2 separate regions of the Homo sapiens genome follow, and region 1 is linked to region 2. The links come from fine-mapping of genetic effects on gene expression. A gene starts in region 2. The other region holds a variant in brackets. All regions are shown on one strand. Distances are from middle to middle.

Region 1 (9,824 bases), 100 kb after region 2:
TTGAACCCAGGAGGCAGAGGTTGCAGTGAGCCGAGATCACACCACTGCACTCCAGCCTGGGCAACAGAGCGAGACTCCATCTCAAAAAAGAAAAAAAAAGTACACGCTCAAGAAAGGAGTGCCGGCAGACTCAAGAGTCGTGTGGTGGGGTGTGGGGCTGCTACCTTTATGCGTTTATTTAATCCAGGGGTGGAATATTCATGAAAATTCCTGGGAAAAAAGTGGAGATTTCTTAGAACTGTAGTGCCACACGTTTTTACACCAAACATGGGTGGTCTCGGAACTGTCACAGCACTGGTGGGTGAGTGAGTTAGGATGTTAATGAGCATACAGCGAGGTCCTAGGAGAAACCGAGGTCATATCTAGTGCCATGTTGGGCCCAGTTGGTCTTAGCCAGCTTGGTCCACACCCTGTTTTTCAGGGTGTCATATGAAACTACTGCCTGGAATTTTTATTCTCCTGTGGCCACCTTGTATTATTCCTGTCTCATTTTAACTTAATTACCTCTGCAAAGACTCTATCTGCAGTCACATTCAGAGGTACTGGGGGTTAGGACTTCAAGGTGGATTTGGAGGGGAATGCAGTTCATTCTATACCAAACGGACTTGCAGTCTCCATCCTGGCAGAAGACCCCCAGTGTGTACAGGACCGGAAGGCAGCCAGGGCTTTGATCACTCTGTCTGAAGCCTCCCAGTTAGTCCTCTGAAAGCAGTGCTCCCTGCTCCTCCTCCCAGCTTGGAGTCCATAGGTTATTTGCAGTTTCCTCAGCAGGTACATCTTCCATCTCCCGCCAGGGGTGCAGTAGGGGATAGTTGCCTGGTCACTGGATTGTCTTTTTTTCTTTCTTTTTTTTTTTTTTTAAACAGACTCTTGCTCTGTTGCCCAGGCTGGACTACAGTGGCCCAATCATAGCTCACTGCTGCTTTGAACTCCTGGACTCAAGTGATCCTCCCATCTTGGCCTCCCAAAGTGCTGGGATTACAGGCGTGAGCCTCTGTGCCCAACTGCCACTAGATTTTTAAGCCCACATTTCACCCCTGCCATCTGCCTGTCCTGGTGCTTCCAAGTCCTGCACTTTGCTGCATTCTGTGGGGCAAGGCAGTCTTCCCCGCACTCCTCTGCAGGCTCAGCTAGCATGTCCCCTTCACCCTGTAGAATCTGCTCCCACCCTCCGTCCCCTTCCCATCTTCCAAAATCATGTTGCAATCTGGCATCTGCTGCTGTTCCTCTCTAGCTCTCTTCATTACCATGGGCCCCTCTGTTTCATTCCTTCGCTGTCATTATGCTGGGATCTCAGGAGGAAGATGAGCTCAACGTACACGTTCAGTCCCTGTGTTTACCCAGAATCCTCCTGGCTTCTCCCCAAGAAGAGGTCAGAGCCGCAGCCTGCGGAGGAGGGTGTTGAGGCAGCTCAGCCAGCATGAGGCTGGCCCTGCTGGATCCAGTGGGGAGAGGTCACGGTCCCCTAGGGCTGAGGAGGGAGAGAGAGAGCTGTGGGCGGGGCCTGTGCATCTGTCCTTGGAGTCCTGAAGTCTTGAATCTCTGTTGCTACTGAGAGGGAAGGAGGCCTCCAGGTCTTGCTCTGCACTACAGGGGCTCTGGACTTGTTGGAGAGGTGTCTCTTCACTCCAGGGCTTCCACCCGAGACCTGGGCTCCCGGGACTGGGTGTGCCCAGCCTCCTCTCCCCCACCCCCCTGCCAGTGATGTCATAGGTGTGACACTGCAGCCAAAGACCAGGCGAACTCAGGCGGGTGTCTACCACCTCCAAAATAAAACGTGTTTTCTAAACTGTTGCTGAAGCTGCTGAAATGTTTTGTAAAATGTTTACACCTCCCTTGATATAAGGCAAATACCTTCTGTCAGCCGGGGGTGGGCCGGGTGGGGGAGCCCTGGGCGGGGAGGCAGGATCAAGTGGCTCTGGTGTCATTGGTGACACCCATGTGTGTTCACTCCTGGTGGAATTTCTCCTCTCAAGGTCTCTCTGTCCTTGCTGGGGAGATGGGGACTGGGTCCTTGGACACTTCTGTTTTAGGAAGCCTAAGCTCACTGAGGAATTGTTCTAGGGGAAGTGTCTTTGAAGGAGGTGAGGCAGACACGAAGTCCAAAGCTGAGGGGATGGGGAGTTGCTGAAAATGAGTGTTCCCTGGAGAGTGGCAACCATCCCTGGAGGTGGCAGGCGCTGAGAGACAGAACTCGGGGGGACACCTAGGGAGACTGGACTGCAGCCCCAGGGCTGACTTCCCAGCCATCTGACCAGAGGGAATGGAAGGCAGAGATCCCCCAGACACCCCAGGCTGTCTGGGTCCAGGGAGCTTCACAGGGTCCTAAAGAGGGGGATGGGGACCTGGAGCAATTTACTGTGAGTTACAAAAAAAAAAAAAAATCACATGCAGTCGGACCTGAACCATGCACAGTGAGCCTGGCTTTACACTTGAGCATGACACGTGATACCCACTGTCTCCTCCAGCAGCTCTCTTGAAGGCCAGGGAAGCCAGCCCGTCCGTGACCTCTGTGACAGAGCTACTGCTGCAGCCACACACTCAGTGTGTCAGGCACTAGATAGAAATGGAAAGGCTTCAGGCCACACACAAGGCCGTGGGGCTCCAGCTTCCCCTCTGGGAGAGCTTCGGCACTACATGTTCTCTCCTAGGCAGCACTGTGGTGTCGGCAGCCCCGCTGTCTGTACACACAGCTCCTCCGCCAGGCTGGAGTCACCCTCTATGCCCAGAAACTCCCACGGAAGAAGGGCATGGGCAGCTCCTCATACCATGGGGAGGGACAGGAGGGACTGTGTGGGCCTGGTGGTGACATGCACACATGACATACACCCATACATGTACCACACATACACACCCCATACCCCATACACACGCCACACATACACCACACATACGCAGGCCACACACACATACACACTCCCACACACACATCACATATACACACTGCACACACACACCACACATACATACACACCACACATGCATCACACATACCCCACATACACCACACATGCACCACACACCCCGCACACATGTACCACACACATGCACCACACATATATACCACACATACCCACACTGCACACACATGCACCACACATACACACTGCACACCACACACACCACATATGCTTGCCACACACACACGGAATGCATGTAGCAAACACACTCTGCCCATTGGCCTCTGTCCACCATCCAAAGCTTCTCTGCCAGCCCTGGCATCTGCTTACAGTGGAGGGGCAGCCCTTTTCTTCCTGGGGCTCCCACAGTAAGCTGAGCAGAGCACACTGCTGAGAGCTGGAAGTTCTCCCCTCAAGACCATGGGGACACAGGAGGCAGGGAGCTGGGCAGGCAGTGGTATGCAGTGTCAGGAGCCTCCAGGGCAGGCCCCCACTCCCCTATCCTCCTTCCACTATGCAGTTCCTTCCCCTTGCAGGGGTCAGCCTAGCCTGGGAGCTGGGGCCAGTTCAGGGGCTTCCATATCAGTGAGGGCCACGTCCATCATTGCTGAAAGCAGAGTGGCCACCAGCACTGGCCCGACGTGGACGCAGGGAGGAGTGGTGCCCAGACCTGGCCCAAGCCAGGGTGGCTACAGTTTGATCTGACCAGAGTTGCCCTGTCTGTCTTCAGCTTGCACCTCTGGCCATCCCAGGTTCAGGGCCACTCATCTCAGCTCTGTCTTATCTGTGGAAATAGGAAATCAAAGTCCATGTAATCACAAGGGAATCGTTCATTGGGAGGCAACTGGACCCAACCAGAAAGCTAGTGCTCTCGGGGACCCTCTCTGGGGGCCCGCAGCCATGGCTGGAAACCCTATTGCAGGGTCCTCGGAGTCAGCATTGGCTCCAGCAGCATGTGTTTGCCTTGACACCAGAAGATGGAGCCCTGAGCCAACTCACATTCCTCCAGTCCCCAGTCCTTCTCCATCTTCTGTCCTCTGAGATCGGGCATCCTCCAGGACAGAGCCCAGGTATCTTCCTATCTCTGAACACCCACAGTCACCTTCCCACACTGCATCACCACAGGGTGTGCAGGGCCTAACACTGCTATGCTAGGTTCTTAACACATGTCTGTTGTGTGGTTGGATGGATGGACAGATGGATGCATGGATGGTGAGTGGGAAGATGGATGGATGGATGGGTGGATGGATGGATAGATAGGTGGATGGACAGATTGATGGAAAGATGGATGGGTAGGCAGATGAGTGGGCATATGGATGGATGGATGGATGGATGAGTAGGCAGATAGATGGATGTGTGGGTGGGTGGGTGGGTAGATGGATGGAGGGATGTATGAATGGATAGAGGGATGGCTGGGTGGAAGAATGTATGGAGGGAAGGGTGGATGGATAGATGAATGGAAGGACGGA[T/C]AGATGGATGGAAAGTTGGACAGATGGGTAGGTGAGTGGGCAAATGGAAGTATGTGTGGGCAGATAGGTGATGGAGGGATAGATGTTTGTATAGAGGGATGGATGGATGGATGGATGGACAGATGGATGGATGGGTGGGTGAGTGGGTAGATGGATGGATGGATGGATGGACAGATGGATGGACAGATGGATGGATGGGTGGGTGAGTGGGCAGATGGATGGATGGATGGCTGTTTGGATGGATGGATGGATAGATGGAAAGATGGACAGATAGGTAGTGAGTGGGCATATGGATGGATGGGTAGACAGACTGATGGATGAGATGGATGGATGGATGGATGGATGGATGGATGGATGGATGGATGAAGGGATGGATGGATAGATGAATGGATGGATGGACAGATAGATGGGAAGATGGACAGCTAGGTGGGTGGGTGGGCAGATGGATGGATGGGTGGGTAGACAGTCTGGATGAGCTGAATGAATGGGTGGATGGAAGGTGGGAGGGAGGGAGTGATAGATGAATGGATGGATGGACAGACGGATGGAAAGATGGACAGATGGGTGGGTGCATGGGCAGATGGATGGATGGATGGGTGGACAGACTGATGGATGGACGGACGGACAGACGGATGGGTAGGTACATGTAGTAAAAGAAGGAAATACATGAGGGGAGGCAAAGATTTGTTGGTAGACTGAACCGTAGCCCCTCTGGGGACTAAATTCTCTCAGGAAACAGGTTGAAAGCTCAACATCATCTCCAGAAGCTATTTTCTTGCAGTTCGCACACCCAGCATTCCTGTGGTCTTGTCATCAGGCTGCCTCTGGCCCTGTCTTTCTTACCTCTTTGTTCCTTGGTTGCACCCCTTCCCCCTCTTCCCTGGGGCTGGGCATTCTCAATTGGTAACACGAACCTGGAGGGGATGTGAATGGAGATGAGGTTTCTGGGGAGAAACAGCTGTTTCCCACCCCGAGCGTAACTCCCATCACGGGCCTTGGGAAGCTGGAACAGCCTAACAGCCACCCCCAGTTCCCCACCCACATCTCTCTTTTCTCCCTGCTTTGATGTTCTCCAGTTAGTCCTGGCTCAGCCTCTGCAGCTGCTGATATGAATACACTAAGTGGATCAATAACATGTCAGTCCTTTGCCAGGAGCAAGGGTAAGAGGGGGTCTGCATCTATCAAGTGCTGAGTGACAGCTAATCATTTTTCACCTGGCATTCACCCTTCCGAAGATAAGCCCGGCTCTGCTGGGAACAAGAAGACAACGTCAGAGGCTCCCCTGCTCCACTTCCTGCAGAGCCCAGGGCACCAGCCTGGCTCACATTTCCACTCCCTATGCGTGATCCTGTGTTAAGTGTGGGGCTCAGTGGGAATGTGTGCACGCCCTGGGTTCATGAGCAAATGTGTCTGTGGGTGGGATTGGATCTTTGTGTGTGCGTGCATGCCTGGAGGCTGAATACCTGTGAGTGTGTGTGTATCTGAGTATTTGTTTGAGAATGTGCATGACTGCGTATGTGCAGATGTCTGTGTGCACATCCATGCAGATCTCAGTATCCATGTGAGTGTGTGCATGCACAGGCACCTAGGAGCATATGTTTGACCATTTGTGTGTGCACGCGTGTGTCTACACAAAGGTGTGTGAGGGGCCTGTGTTCATCATCAAGGTGTTGCTGTATATGCCAACATCTGCATCTCCCTTGGTTACCCTTGAGTCCTCTCTCTAGGAGACAGGATTCCCAGCAGGCTGTCCTTCCCTGAGCCATTTCACTGCCACTCCCTGCTCAGCTGGTGCCTAGAAGAGAGGAGTGGTGGCTGGAACCCTGTGCTCACCTACCATCCCCCTTCCTGCTGGAGAAAGCAGGTGCCTGTAGAAGGAAGGCAGTCTGAGGGTGAAGGATCCTGGATTGGACAGGAACATTTCAATTGCAAGGGACAGCATCAGGTAGGGCTGTATCTAGGCTCTGCCTTGGTGTGGTCAGAACTTAGCTTCTCCATTCCTTGCCTCTGCTTCTCCTCTCGTGGGCTTCAGTCCCAGATAGCCTTTTGCCAAGGGGTGGCCCTGGCATCTCTGGGCCGCCATTGTCACCCCATTGTGTTACCTGATCATCCTCGAGCCAATTCCTTTGGCAGGAGGATCCCATGCCCCTTCTGGTGTGGGTGGTGCCACCTCATCCAAACCACAGGGGCTGAGAGTGGGGAGGAGTAGCTTCCCGTGGCGAAGGGGTGCTGGTGTGGTTGTGAAGGGGGAGGTTAGGTGGACAGAAACTGAGTGTGGGTACTTTCCTCCTGGGGTGAGGTCTTGCGTCTCAGGCACTAAGAGGCTCAGCCTGCAGGCACCGGGCCTGGCTCCTCGGTGCCCTTGGCCCCACATGGGTGCTGTGCAGTCACTTCCATGCAGCCACAGGCAGCTGCTCTGGCCTCAAGCTTTAGATGAGCCTAGCCTCCTGACCAGGCTCCACCGGTTACCCCACACCCAGGCCCAGCCCCCTCCTGACACACCCTGCCCCACAGGCAGCTTCCATGCCCTGGGTGTGGGGCCTGGGACCTCCACCATCCTCTCACTGTGCAGAAGGGGAAGGTGCTGGGCGAGCCCCCACCCGGGGGTCAGGTGCTGCATTAGGGGCCTCACCTTCCCCAGTGTTCCCTCCACTTTTAGATGAGGATACCCCCGGCCCCCATCCGGGCTCAGCCAAGGAGCCGTAAGCAGTTCTGTAAAGTGTGGCTGCGGGGCTGGCAGCCGGGCTGCTCTTCCCAGGCTCCATGAATAATTGAAGCTCCATTAAAATGTGCGTCTGCAGCCTGGAGGACACGCCCTCCCTCACTGAGTGTGGGCGCAAGCCTGGACAGTATTGCCTGGGGCTGCATCTGCCTCGGAAGGCCCTGGAGGGGCACAAAGACCAGGTCAGACCTGCCACTCCTGGGCCCTGCCCCTGCCCCCTCTCCTTCCCTGCCTTCCCTTTTCTCCCCATCCTAGCATGTGGCAGGCATGGAGACCTGGCCCTGGAGCTCCCCAGCCAGGTGGCACAGAGAGGCCCACTCCGGGTGGGCTGGGGAGGTCCCCAGCTGCTCCACCTCTCCTTGGGCACTGACAGAGCCTGCTCCAAGGGTGGACTGTGGCCCAGAGTGGGGGGCCACACCTCGGCACACCCCAGCCAGGGACCAGGCCGCAGCTGCTCACCAGCAGATCCCTGGAGGATCGACCCAGCAGATGCTGGGGGTTGGGGAGGGAGTGAGGGCACAGAGCTCCCGGGAGCCATCGGCAGCGCACAGCTGTCATCAGGAGACCAGCACTGCTGTGTGTGCAAGTGCAAGCATATGTATCGGGGGGCGCTGTTATGAGGGACATGAGTGTGCGTGCACAGAGTGTGAGGGTGTCTCCAGAGCTGCGTGGCTGCATGTGATTGTGGGGACACAACCGAGTCTCTACGTCTGTGGCTCTATGTCTGCGCGTCACAAACCCTTGATCAGGCTAAGAGGTCCCCGTGGGGAAGGGCATTTCTCCTTGGCTCCTGACTGATGCCCCTCCCCACACACTCACCCCCCAGGGGCATCCTGTACCTGCTGTTGTGGGCCCCTCCTCGACTCATTCTGAGAGCTAAGCCTCGAGTCCTAATCCAAATCTGAAATTCCTGGTAATGAAATCTGTGAAAGGTGAAAATTAAAAACCCATGGCCACAATCTCCTGGTCCCTGCAGTGGCCCAGGGTCCCTGCTGAGCCCTGCGTGGGGCCTCGAGGCGCCAGTACCAGCCCTTTCCCCACTGCCCTGCCCTGAGCTCAGTGAGCCTTCACTCCCTCATTAGCAAGAAGGGTGCTTCTCCTGCCTTCACCTTCCTTTGCCCCAAATGCGACGCAAGCGAAAGATACTCTTTCTCCCTTGGCTCTCCCACCCACTCTGGCCTCCCTGGTCCTCACCACTGGGACTCTGGGGGTCTCGGCACAGAGGTGTGATGAAAGAAGGGTTAGGGGCTGCCAGGGTGAGCCAAGAGAACAGAGCTGGAGGCTTCAGCCTCGGCCAGCCCCTTATCTCTAGCCTCATCTTCTATATTCTCTCATCTGGTCGTGGTGGGTGCTTTGGGAAGGATCAGGGCAGAGTGACCTGGGCCGGAGCCTGGCCACAGGGTCTAGGTGGCTGGTATTTTGGGCTGAGCTGGACTTGCCCACTGGAGACACTGGGAATGGGGCCGCTCAGGGCTCTTGCCTGGAAGTGGTCCGATTCCCCTTGGCCCAGAGAGAAGCTTTCAGGGTGGGGCATGAAGGTCATTGCCCGCTGCAGCAGGGGCTTCTTGCATTCTCCCTCTTCCTCCTGTAAGAACCGGGGTCTGAGTTGACCCAGTTCTATCCCAAGGCCTTCAGCAACCGGGCAGAAGGCCCTCAGGCCACTGACCTCTTGAGATGACTGTGCTTTGTGGCCAGGAGTGGAAGGTGTGGTGGTAGATGGGGCAGGGGACAGGGCCAGCCAGTCACATACCAGGTCCTAAAGGCCTTGCCATCCTGGGACCTGGTATTGATGTCTTTAAAGGTGAGTATCAGCTGGTCACATTGGCTCATGCCTGTAATCCCAGCACTGTGGGAAGCTGAGGTGGGAGGATCACTTTAGCTCAGGAGTTCGAGACCAGCCTGGGCAATATAGCGAGACCCCGTTTCTACCCATAATACAAAAATTAGCATGGTGGCGCATGCCTGTAGTCCCAGCTACTCAGGGGCTTGAGCTCAGGAGATAGAGGCTGCTGGAAGTCCTGGTTGCACCACTGTCCTCCAGCCTGGGTGACAGAGCAAGACCCTGTCTCAATAATAATAATAATAATAAAAGTGTGAGCATCAGCTGGGAGGTGGGGAGTGAAGGGTGTGGGCACTAGAACTCCCTCTGGGTGGCTCACAGGATGGGGCTGGATCGGTGTCCCAGGAGCAGGGAAAGCCACCCAAATGTCCCACCTCTCGACAGCAGTGCTGAACTCCAGACATGGCGAGGACAGGTTTAGATTTGATTCTTCCTCCTGACCGCCATAAAGAAGGGGGCTCCCTGGCAAGGGGCTAGGAGACGTGGGCCAGGGGCTGCAAAGAAAGGGGCTGAGGGGACAGTGCATGCCGGCAACCCAGCCCTCAGGGCCATCCCGAGTGCTCAGCCTCAGTGCAGCTGCTCCTGCTCCCCCACCTCGACCCGCACCTCTGCTGGCAGTGCTCCCCTCCCAGCTCCTGCACCTTCCCCTCCTCTGCTTGTATCTCAGTCCCACCCACTTTTCCAAGCCCAGCCCTTCCGTGCCACTTTCGCTGATGCCTGATCCTGAGCCCTCTCCTCCCCTTCCCAGGCCCTTTCTGTGCCAAAGATGCACTTCATCCACAGTCGCCCGGGAGCCACTTCTGGCCACGCGTCCTGCTCCCCAGGTGCGTCCTATGGTGGGGATCCTCTCCCACCACCTCCCTTTCTTCAAATGAGGCTCCCTGGCTGATCCT
Region 2 (9,824 bases):
CCAGTTAATGACTAACAACATATAACCAAACAAGGTTAGCCCAGCCAACTTGACTGAATAGAGAGAACTATTTATAATGAGCTCATTCGTATCTGAATGCAGATAGATGCACAGAAGGACTCCAATGTTAATAGAAGTCAAAATCCATTTACTGTACAAGGTGGGGGAGATGTTCCCCCTGCAAGCCTATTCCCACTGCCTTTGACTGACAGTAAAAAAGTAAACTTCAGCCTGGCCGTGTATGACGTGAGTGCTGAATTAGTTTGGTTCCAATTAAATAGGATTTACTGAATTGTGACATGGACATATTCTAGAATTTTAAACTCTTTACCCCAAAAGTAAAAAGAAGAATCTCTACTATTTCTGTCAAGAGCGTCTTAGACCCCCTCCTGCAGTTCATCATCACCTTAGACAGTGTCCTTCGCCCCACCACGGGCAGGCCTGGAGAAGGAGCCCCGCCACTGGAGGATCATCCGTCTCAAGGATACTTGGGAACTGAAGGAGTGACCAGGAGCAGGCAGTCCAGTGGAGATCTTTTTTTTTTAATTAAGAAGCATCAAAATGAACTTGAGTTTGGCAAGACCTCAATAGAGTAGCCAAGCTGGCTCCAAGCCTGGTTTGCATGGAGGGGCTGGACTTGGCTTGGGCATGGCTCTGTCTTGGGCTCTGGGGTCAGCAAAGCCCCCTGCAGGCCTGCCCACCTCAGGCTGTGGGGAGCGCATCAGGGCCACCAAGGCAGTGAGTGGTCTGCAGCTCTAGGGATGGCGACCCATCCTAGAGAGCCAACAGCTGCCCCCAGAGTACTCGAACCTTATTCCCTGGTTCCTGCCTTCTTCCCTCCTGGGTACTCAGCGCCTCTCTGCTCTGTTGGATTCCCCAGTGTCCTTTTAAGAAAGTCTGGCAGGGCATGGTGGCTCATGCCTATCATCCCAACACTTTTGGGAGGCCAAGCAGGAAGATGACTCAAGCCTAGGAGTTCGAGACCAGCCTAGGTAGCACAGTGAGACCCTGTCTCTACAGAAAATAAAAAATAAAAAATTAGTTGGCCATGGTGGTGCACACCTGTGTTCCCAGCTACTCAGGAGAACGAGGTGGGAGGACCCTTTGAGCCCAGGAGTTTGAGGTTGCAGTGAGCTAGGGTCATGCCACTGCACTCCAGCCTGGGTGATAGAGTGAGATTCTGTCTCAGAAAAATAAAGTCTCCCCTTTCTTTGCAAGTTAGTCATAGTTTCTGTTGTGCACTCTCTAGAAAACCACATCTGTTCACCAACTCTCTTCTGTGTTAAGGACTGGTGTCACTTTAGCCTGCCCCAGAAAAACTTCTCTTTAAAGAGAAACTATTCCTTTTTTTTTTTTTTTTTTTTTCAGACGGAGTCTTGCTCTGTTACCCAGGCTGGAGTGCAGTGGCGCCATCTCAGCTCGCTGCAACCTCCACCTCCTGGGTTCAAGCAATTCTCCTGCCTCAGCCTCCCCAGTAGCTGGGATTATAGGCGTGCACCATCACGCCTGGCTAATTTTTGTGTTTTTAGTAGAGATGGGGTTTCACCATGTTGGCCAGGCTGGTGTTGAACTCCTGACCTTGTGATCTGCCCTTCTCTGCCTCCCAAAGTGCTGGGATTACAGGCGTGAGCCACCATACCCAGCCAAGAGAAACCATTCTTATACCCTGAGGAATGATGGTGAAATTTCGAAATTGTGACAGGTATATGGGGTTCAGGGATGCCCAGAACCCCCAGCAATGTTGCTTATGCAGGGGATACCCACCCAGGCATATTGACATCAGGAAATTTCAGACAACTCAACTCAGAAGGAAACAAAGTGACCCTCCAGCTCCTTGAAAACCCAAGAGGTGACAGAAAAGGGGAAAGGAGAGAGGAGGAAAAGGCCTGGGAAGGAACATTCATCCCATAAGGTGGCCAAGGGATACCTTGGCTGGAAATGAGTCTGGGCCACGTTCCCTGGTGAGGAACTTTTAGGAATCATGGAATTGCACAGCAGGCCTTCAGATCCTGGGCCCCCATCCCTCATCTTTCGAATGGGGAGGTCGAGGCCTGGGGAGGGAAGGCATGGCCCGGAGCCCACACAGGCCCCAGAGAGCAGCTGAGGAAGGCAGGTCCGTTCCCAGGAGGAGTCTCCCGCCTGGATGGCACTCTGATCAGCACGTCACTGGCCTGTCTGTGTGTTGAACTGACTTCAGGAAGCCTTGGGGTCACAATATTGCAGAGGCCATTACAGGGCCAGATGTTGGACGTGGAAGCAAGGCCAGGCCACGTCATACCCTGAGGTGACTAGTCTGTGGGTGGCTAAGGGCAGTCTGGTCACAGGACTCCAATTCCCAAAATGCCATGACACCCTTCACCTTTCCTCTGCAGGGACAGTCTATTGTCTCTGCATACAGGGAACAGGCTCTGAGGGGTTAGGAGACAAGTTCAAGACCCCCTAGCTGGCACCTGGGAGAGCTGAAGCAGACCTCCTGGCCCATCCCATCATTCCCTTCTTCCTCCCATGGGATGCAGGGAGACAGATGAGGTGTTCCCGACCTGCCAGTATAGATGGCTCCCAAACTCCTCTGTGGAACAAGTCTTCTTCTTCTTCTTCTTCTTCCTCGTCTTCTTCTTCTTCTTCTTCTTCTTCTTCTTCTTCTTCTTCTTCTTCTTCTTCTTCTTCTTCTTCTTCTTCTTCCTCTTCTTCTCCTCCTCCTTCTTTTTCCTCTTCTTCCTCTTCTTTTCTTCTTCTTCTTCTTCTTCCTCTTCTTCCTCTTCTTCCTCCTCTTCCTCCTCTTCCTCCTCTTCTTCCTCTTCTTCCTCTTCTCTTCTTCTTCTTCTTCTTCTTCTTCTTCTTCTTCTTCTTCTCCTTCTCCTTCTCCTTCTTCTTTTTTTTTTAATAGAGTCTCACGCTGTCACCCAGGCTGGAGTGCAGTGGCACAATCTCAGCTCACTGCAACTTCTGCCTCCCAGATTCAAGTGATTCTCCTGCCTCAGCTTCCTGAGTAGCTGGGGCTACAGGTGAGCACCACCATGCCCTGCTAACTTTTGTATTTTTAGTAGAGATGGGGTTTTGCTATGTTGGCCAGGCTGGTCTCAAACTCCTAGCCTCAAGTGATCTGCCCACCTCAGCCTCCCAAAGTGCTGGAATTACAGGCATGAGCCACCATGCCCAGCCTGTTCTGGTTCCTCTCATGGCAACAGATGGAAGGTTCAGGACTCAAGACTCAGTCTTGCCAAACACAATGTGAGACAGTCTCAGCTTCCCACTGTGCCACCTTCAGCCTCCAGCCCAAAGACGGGCAGGAACCTTCACTTGCAGGAACGGCCTGAGGAAAGGGAGCCCAGAGCCAGTGGAGGCGGGGGTCTGCCTGCGTCCCAGAGCCAAGCCCCCTCCTCTTTCCTGTATCCTTGTTGCAGCAAACAGATTGGCACCTGAACCTCTCTATTAGCCCTTCTGGGGCTTAGGCTGTGGGCGCATGGGGCCATGCACTAAAAATGTCTTTCACCTTAGTTGGGATGCAAAGAGACAAGTTTGCCACTAATCTTTCGGTGGAGACACACATATCAAAAATCGCAAGTGAGCACACAAGGCTTCCTGCAGGGAATTGCAGCCTTCCTGCTCCTCCCTCGCTGCAGAGGCTGAGCCTGACTTTCAAAAAAGGGCACGCAGCCCTTGGCAAATCTCGGAGGAAAACTCACTGCGAGTTGGTGCCAGGGGCCTCAGGCCCCCTTTGGGGATTTCCCCCATGGCCTCTCAAAACAAGAAGGAAGTCTGAGTTAAAAATGGAAAATGGAGAGAATGTCAAAGGAATGCAGCGTTATTGATTCCTAGTGGTGTCTGCCTGAATATTAGATGCAAATAAGTGCTAATAAGTACAGTTGGGAAAGCTAATGGAAAAACCATCCTTCCCAGGAGGATCGCGGCACACAGATGCACAGTGTTGCTGAGATGGCTTGGCTCGCTCCACTCACTGGTCACGGCAAAGCCTGTATAGATGCATCCCAGGGAAATAAAGCCTGTGTAGACTTGTCGCATGGAAGTACTCATGGTCCAGAGCCCCCTTTCCAGCTTTGAGGCTGGGCTCTGGAAATGGGAGCTCCTATTATCTCCCCATTGCAGTTAAGTCTCTCTTTCTCTCTCCGTGTGTGTGCATGTGTGTGTGTGTGTGCATGCATTTGCCCTCTGGAGTGTTCATGGTACTGAAGAGATTCTCTTGACCATCAGGCCTCTGTGGCAAAAGTTGTGTGCTCTGTTCCAGGCCTAACTGCAGACAGGGAGCTCATGGGCAGCTGCCCAGCCAAGCTATGGTCAGGACCTTGGGTGGCAAGAGGGGCTGCAAGTGTGGGGTAAGGGGACCACAGGGACAGGGATGGGGTCATTGCACTGTGAGCTAGTCCGGCAAGTGACTTTTTGCTCACTCCACTCTCCCCTCTCTTTGTTCCTACCTTCTCTCCTGCTCTGCTCCAACAGCTTTGGGATGTAGGATGAATAAGGGTTCCACTGCCCTGTTTTTCCTGACACTTGAGTCCCTGGCCCTTGCACTCAGCTCCTCCAATCTGCACCTGACTGAGGCGGAGGAGGGTGATTTCAGACACACACACACACACACACACACACACACATTCCCCTCATGCGTGCAGCCAGTGGAGTGTGCCTGGGTCCCAGCGCAGCCCCAGGCCTGGGTCACTCCGAGCCTAAAGTCCTGGAAAGGGAACCCCAGAACAAAGCCTATCCCAGTTTGGAATCATCACACCTGGGCCATTCTCCAGATGCGTGGAGTCCAGCAAAATGGTGGCATTTTTGCATCTCAATTCGCTCATCTGTAATACGGGAGTGATAATGTCTACTCTGTTGCTGCAAGAATTAAAGGAAGACCATGATCTCTTTGTCATGCTTCTATTTATCTTCTTATCTGTCCTGGTCTATTTTTGGATGCTCTGAGCTTACCTGGGGCATTAAGGAGGCCTCATGGCCCTGGGGCTGAGGGGCTCCCTGGCCGTCCCCAGGAGTGGCTCTGCTCTCCGCCTGGTGTCCCCCACTCTGGTCAGTCAAGACCCATGGGCCCAGCTCACTCCCCAATTCCATCACTCACTCTAGGTCAGCTGGTAGGAGTCAGGCCAACCAGCCAGCAGGTACCATTAGAGAGGAGAGAGTAAGGGTCTTTCACTTTATTAAAGGCTTCTCTGCTGTTGTTTGAAAATACTGAGTGTCCCTTCAAGACTAACAGGTGACTGTGTGCACAGTTTCCTCCAGCTCCTGTGAGAAAGCAGTTGCCCCCCTTCCCAAGGCCTGCTTGTCCCCTGCAGGCTGGGGCTGCCTCTTCTTAGGAAGAACAAGGACCCGAATCCAGGGCCCCGTGTTCCTGTCCCTACTCTGTCCCGGTGCTGTGTGGCCGTGGGCCGGTTCCACCCTCCACGCTGTTTTCCCGAGTGTGTATGAAGAGGGTCGGTTGGCCCCGCTCTCAGGCTGGTGACCCGACACAAACTTCCAGGATGAAGTCCTGAAGGGAGCACCTGTTCGCAGGGCACTTTCAGCAGAATCTAGAGCCCCAGGGATTTGAGGATGGATGCGGACACCCGGGCCTGAGGCAGCTCGCGGCCTTGACCGAATTCCACGCGAGCTGAAGCCCAGGGATATCCCAGAATCTTCCTCAGGATCAATCTTCCGCCTTTCACCGGCCCTGCGCCCCCGCAGCATCGGGTCCTGGGCGCGCGCCCCTGCCCCGCTGTGGTCAAGGCCCGCCCCGGTGACGCCTGGTCCTTTTCCCGGGTTGGCGCCGCGTGCGACCCACCGAGGCAGTGGCAGCACTGGCCGCGGTCTGGAGCCTAGCGTCAGGCCGGAGTCCGGCTCTCCTGAACCGGGAGACCGGCGCAGCCCCAGCCACGACCGCTCCCACCCCCGCGGCCGCCGGACCGCGCCCAGCAGCGACTCTTTCTGAGAGCGCTGCCAGAGGGGCCGCGGGAGCCGCAGAGCGCGCGTGGGCGCGGCGCCCGCGAGCCCCCGGGAGGGCCGAGTGCATCGCTGGAGCGATCCCCGCCCGGCCCGGCCACCGCCGTAGCCGCCACCACGGCGGGGCGGGGCACGGGCCGGGGGCGGGGCGCCGGGCGGGCGCGGCGCTATTTCCAGCCTCGCCGGAGGCTTCGCTCTCACTTCGCTGGGAGCCTTCCCGGCGCGCAAGCCGGATCCGGCAGTGCTGCGGGGAGGAGAGAGGACGAGGCGGCGGCGGCAGCAGGAGGTGGGGGACCGATCGCGCCGGGGGCCGAAGAGGAACGCCGCCCCGCGCCCTCTCGCTCCCCGCACGCTCCGGCTGCCGGCCCCACGCTGCTCGCCCACAGATCGCACTGGGTTCCGCTTGGAGCGGGCGGAGGCACCGGGCCCGAGCTGGGTCGGAGGTCCTCTCCGCCGCCTGCGCGCCCCAAGCAGAGGATCCGCCGCGGAGAACCGCTCCCGGACTGGAGGCGCCCGCGGCCTCGGGTGCGTCCGCTGCGCCAGGTAAGTGGCTGCGCCCCTGCCCCACCCCTGTTCCCGCCCTGCGCAGGCTCCTGGCCTGCAGAGACGCCAGGAAGGGGTCCCGAGCGGGCCCCGGACTGCACCGCTCGCCATCCCCGCCACCGCACGCGAATGGGAGTCCGAAGCTGCGGGCGGAGGTGGGCGCGCGGGGCTCGGGTCTGGTTGCACTTTGGGGACCGGCCCCGGTAGCGGGAACTTTAATTAGACTTTCTCTCCTTGGATCTCACTCGCTGCCGCGCTTCTGGGAACTGCCGTCCCTCGGGCCCTCTTGGTCCCTGCGGACTCCCGCTCCGCCTCCTGGCCCTCGGTGCTGCCCGCGGGGAGGCGGCGTCGGGCGCTGAGCAGCGAGCGCCGAGGGCCAGGCAGGAGCGCTCGGGGCGCTGGGGCTTCCTGGCGCGCTCGGAGCCGGGGCTCCGGACGGGTTGCGGCGGGCAGAGACTATGGGGGAAGTTTAAGTGGCCTTGGCTTCCTACCCAGCGGCTCCGTCGCGCGCGTCCCCGACCCGCAACTCTCCAGGGCACCGGCCTGTGAGTGCTGGAGGCGAGTGTGCGTGCGTCAGCGATGGTGTGAAGGTGTGTGCGTGCGTGTGTCGGGAGTGCGGGAGTCGGAGCCTGGGGCGGCTCCAGGGGGCGGGGAAATGATCCGTTTGGCCGCGGGACCGAGCCGAGCTCTGACGGCGGCTGCAACTCCGGCTACCGACTCTGCAGACCCGCTCTGGCCTCGCTGGAGGCCAGCCGGGCCAGGAGGGCGATCACGGGTTTTGGCAGTGCCCGATGCTGGGGCTTGGGTCTGATGTGACCCCGATTCCTTCTCCAGTGCGGGACTCCCGCCGCCCTAACTTTCGCGTACATCTTGTCTCCAGGCCCGCGACCCCGACCCGGAGTTGAAGCGGCTGCGGCGCCCTCGGCTGTGGGCGCTGCTGCCCGGCTGTCTGTTTTAACCCAGAAGTAGGCGCCGATCCTGGGGCTCTCTGTCCTGCAGTCGTCTCCGGCGTCCCAGAGGACTCTGCGTCCCTGGGCCACTCCCGCTGGCTCAGGAGCCGTGATCAGCTCCGTTAAGGGGAACGCGCGTCCCGGCCCCTCTCCATCTGCTTGGCGCGATCTGGCGCAGCAGCAGAGCACGTGGGAGAGGCGTTGGGTGCAGGGAGGTAGTAGCTGCTTTGGAGTGGATGGTGGAGAGGGGCGGGGGACAGAGGGGTAAGAGGCAGATCAACCCCCTTTTATTTCCCACCGCCGCCCAAGGCCCCCAGGAGCTACAATACCAAGCCCACTTTCCTGGGTAACCTTTCTCTTCTGAGTTCACCTTGACCCTTGCCTACCTGTGGGGAAGTCTTTCCCTAAGTCCTGCCCTAGGACAGGGCACCCGTGGAGCAGGTGTGGCAGAGCCCTTAACATTTTCCAGCTGTCATGACCTTTCCTGCCCACCCTGTGCCCTGTCCCAAAGGCAAGGCAGACAGGCCACAGGAAGGACACTCATCCCAGCAGGAGATCCTCTTTTAATTTTAATCAGGACACCCCAAGCACAGAAGGCGGCGTGGGAGTTCATTCAGGAGCGTTCAGCAGACTGGCCTCTGTGAAGTGACCCACGGGAGGAATAACATTGGAACCCTGAAGAGAGGGACCTCTTGAGGGTCTGAATGTTGGTTCCAGTGGGACTGGCTGATCAATTATCCAATAGCATTTGAACACAGAAAAACCTCAAAGCCGGAACCTGACCCATTGCCTGGCCCAGTCGCCCTGGGACACACAAACAGTGCAGCTCATTTATTTACTTATTTATTTATTAACCTGGAATCAGACTCGGCAAGAGTGAATTATGTTTCCCGGGTATTGATTTTTAAAAAGACCCCAAATTAAAAAGTCAAGGCTTTCTTAAAGCAAGGTCAAGGATTAATTATTTATCGAGAGGCATCCATCAGGCAGCGTGGGGGCTCATTTATAAATTGCCTGAGCAGGCAAAATGAGCATCTTTTGATTTTCCTTGGCTCCAGTTGGGAGAGGAGAGCAGGCTCGTCTGACCTCCTGGGCTTGGTAGAACATCCCCCTCGGACTGTAACCGACGACAGAGGATGCTTTGTAACTCAGCCTGCTGTTAGAGATGCCTTTATAATCTTGTAGCCAGAATATCACTTGGGAAATTTCATGCATATTTGCTGTGTTTCCATAATGAACATTTACTGATTACAGGGTATCCAGGGAATTTCATTTTTTAAACATTTATTCAAATCTCTGTTTATGTAAGCTAATAAGTCTGGGAAAGTTCAAAAACGACTTTTTTGCCGTATGGTTGTTGAGAAAGTGTGTCTGGTGGGCTACTCTCAGAATTTGTCTTCAGTTCTCTTAAAAAGGGGAGAGTCAGATTTGCCTGATTGGAAACCTCGCGCAGGCTGCTCCCCTGCTCTGAGCTCTGAGTTCCTGCCAGAGGCAGCCTGATAGGCTTTTTGTGGTTTTGCTGATGGAAGAGAGGAAGGGGAGCTTTGATCATTGCTGATGCGTCTGGCTGGAGAAATTTTTAGTGAGTGCGGCTGTGCTTGTAGGGGCTGATGGGGAAGGTGTGGCCCAAGCTGAGGTCCCTGGCTGATGTCCCCATCTCCTGCCTGCTGCCTGGCCTGGAATCTGAGATCCCTGTCTTAGCTACATCTGCTGCTTTGCAGCTTGGAAAAACCTCCCTCCCTGATTTACTGGTGCGTGGCAGCCACACTGGAGAAACGTGGGGCAGCGGGGAACCTGTGAGCAGGAAAGAGGACACAGGATTATGGCAGCTTTCTTTCTTTCTTTTTTTTTTTTTTGAGATAAAGTTTCACTCTTGTTGCCCAGGCTAGAGTGCAATGTTGCGATCTCTGTTTGCCACAAGCTCTGCCTCCTGGGTTCAAGCAATTCTCCTGCCTCAGCCTCCCGAGTAGCTGGGATTACAGGCATGCGCCACCACTCCCGGCTAATTTTGTATTTAGTAGAGACAGGGTTTCACCATATTGGCCAGGATGGTCTCGATCTCCTGACCTCGTGATCCGCCCACCTTGGCCTCCCAGAGTGTTGGGATTACAGGCGTGAGCTACCGCGCCCCGCATGGCTGCTCTTTAGTGAGCAACCGTGGCAATTAGAGCCGATAAACACCATGTGGAATGAGTGGCCAGCCTTTCAGCTAACCAGAAGGTGACGAGTTATAAACTGGAGATTTATATAGTGCTGGCCCAAGGAGATCAATGTGACCCGGCAGTGGCACAGCAAAAAATGAAATAAATAAGTAAATATGTTTTTAAAAGATCGGCCAGGCACGGTGGCTCACGCCTGTAATCCCAGCACTTTGGGAGGCCGAGGTGGGTGGAT

The links. PIP is the estimated chance that this variant, and not a neighbour inherited with it, causes the effect. A credible set is the group of variants that fine-mapping cannot tell apart.
Region 1: its variant is the best candidate, but not a certain one, in a credible set for the expression of CHST8 in whole blood (TOPMed, PIP 0.82).

The regions. Positions count from the first base shown.
Region 1 is chr19:33,717,378-33,727,201 of GRCh38, forward strand. The region is part of intron 3 of CHST8 (carbohydrate sulfotransferase 8); the gene reads left to right. Among named protein-coding and RNA genes, the nearest start is that of KCTD15, 75 kb to the right of the region's middle. RefSeq lists enhancers at 6,806-7,403, 7,404-8,000. The variant T/C (reference allele first, on the strand shown) is at 4,370.
Region 2 is chr19:33,615,817-33,625,640 of GRCh38, forward strand. It overlaps CHST8 (carbohydrate sulfotransferase 8), which reads left to right and starts at 6,137. Exons shown (of 5, transcript NM_001127895.2): 1 at 6,137-6,480. RefSeq lists an enhancer at 5,098-5,842.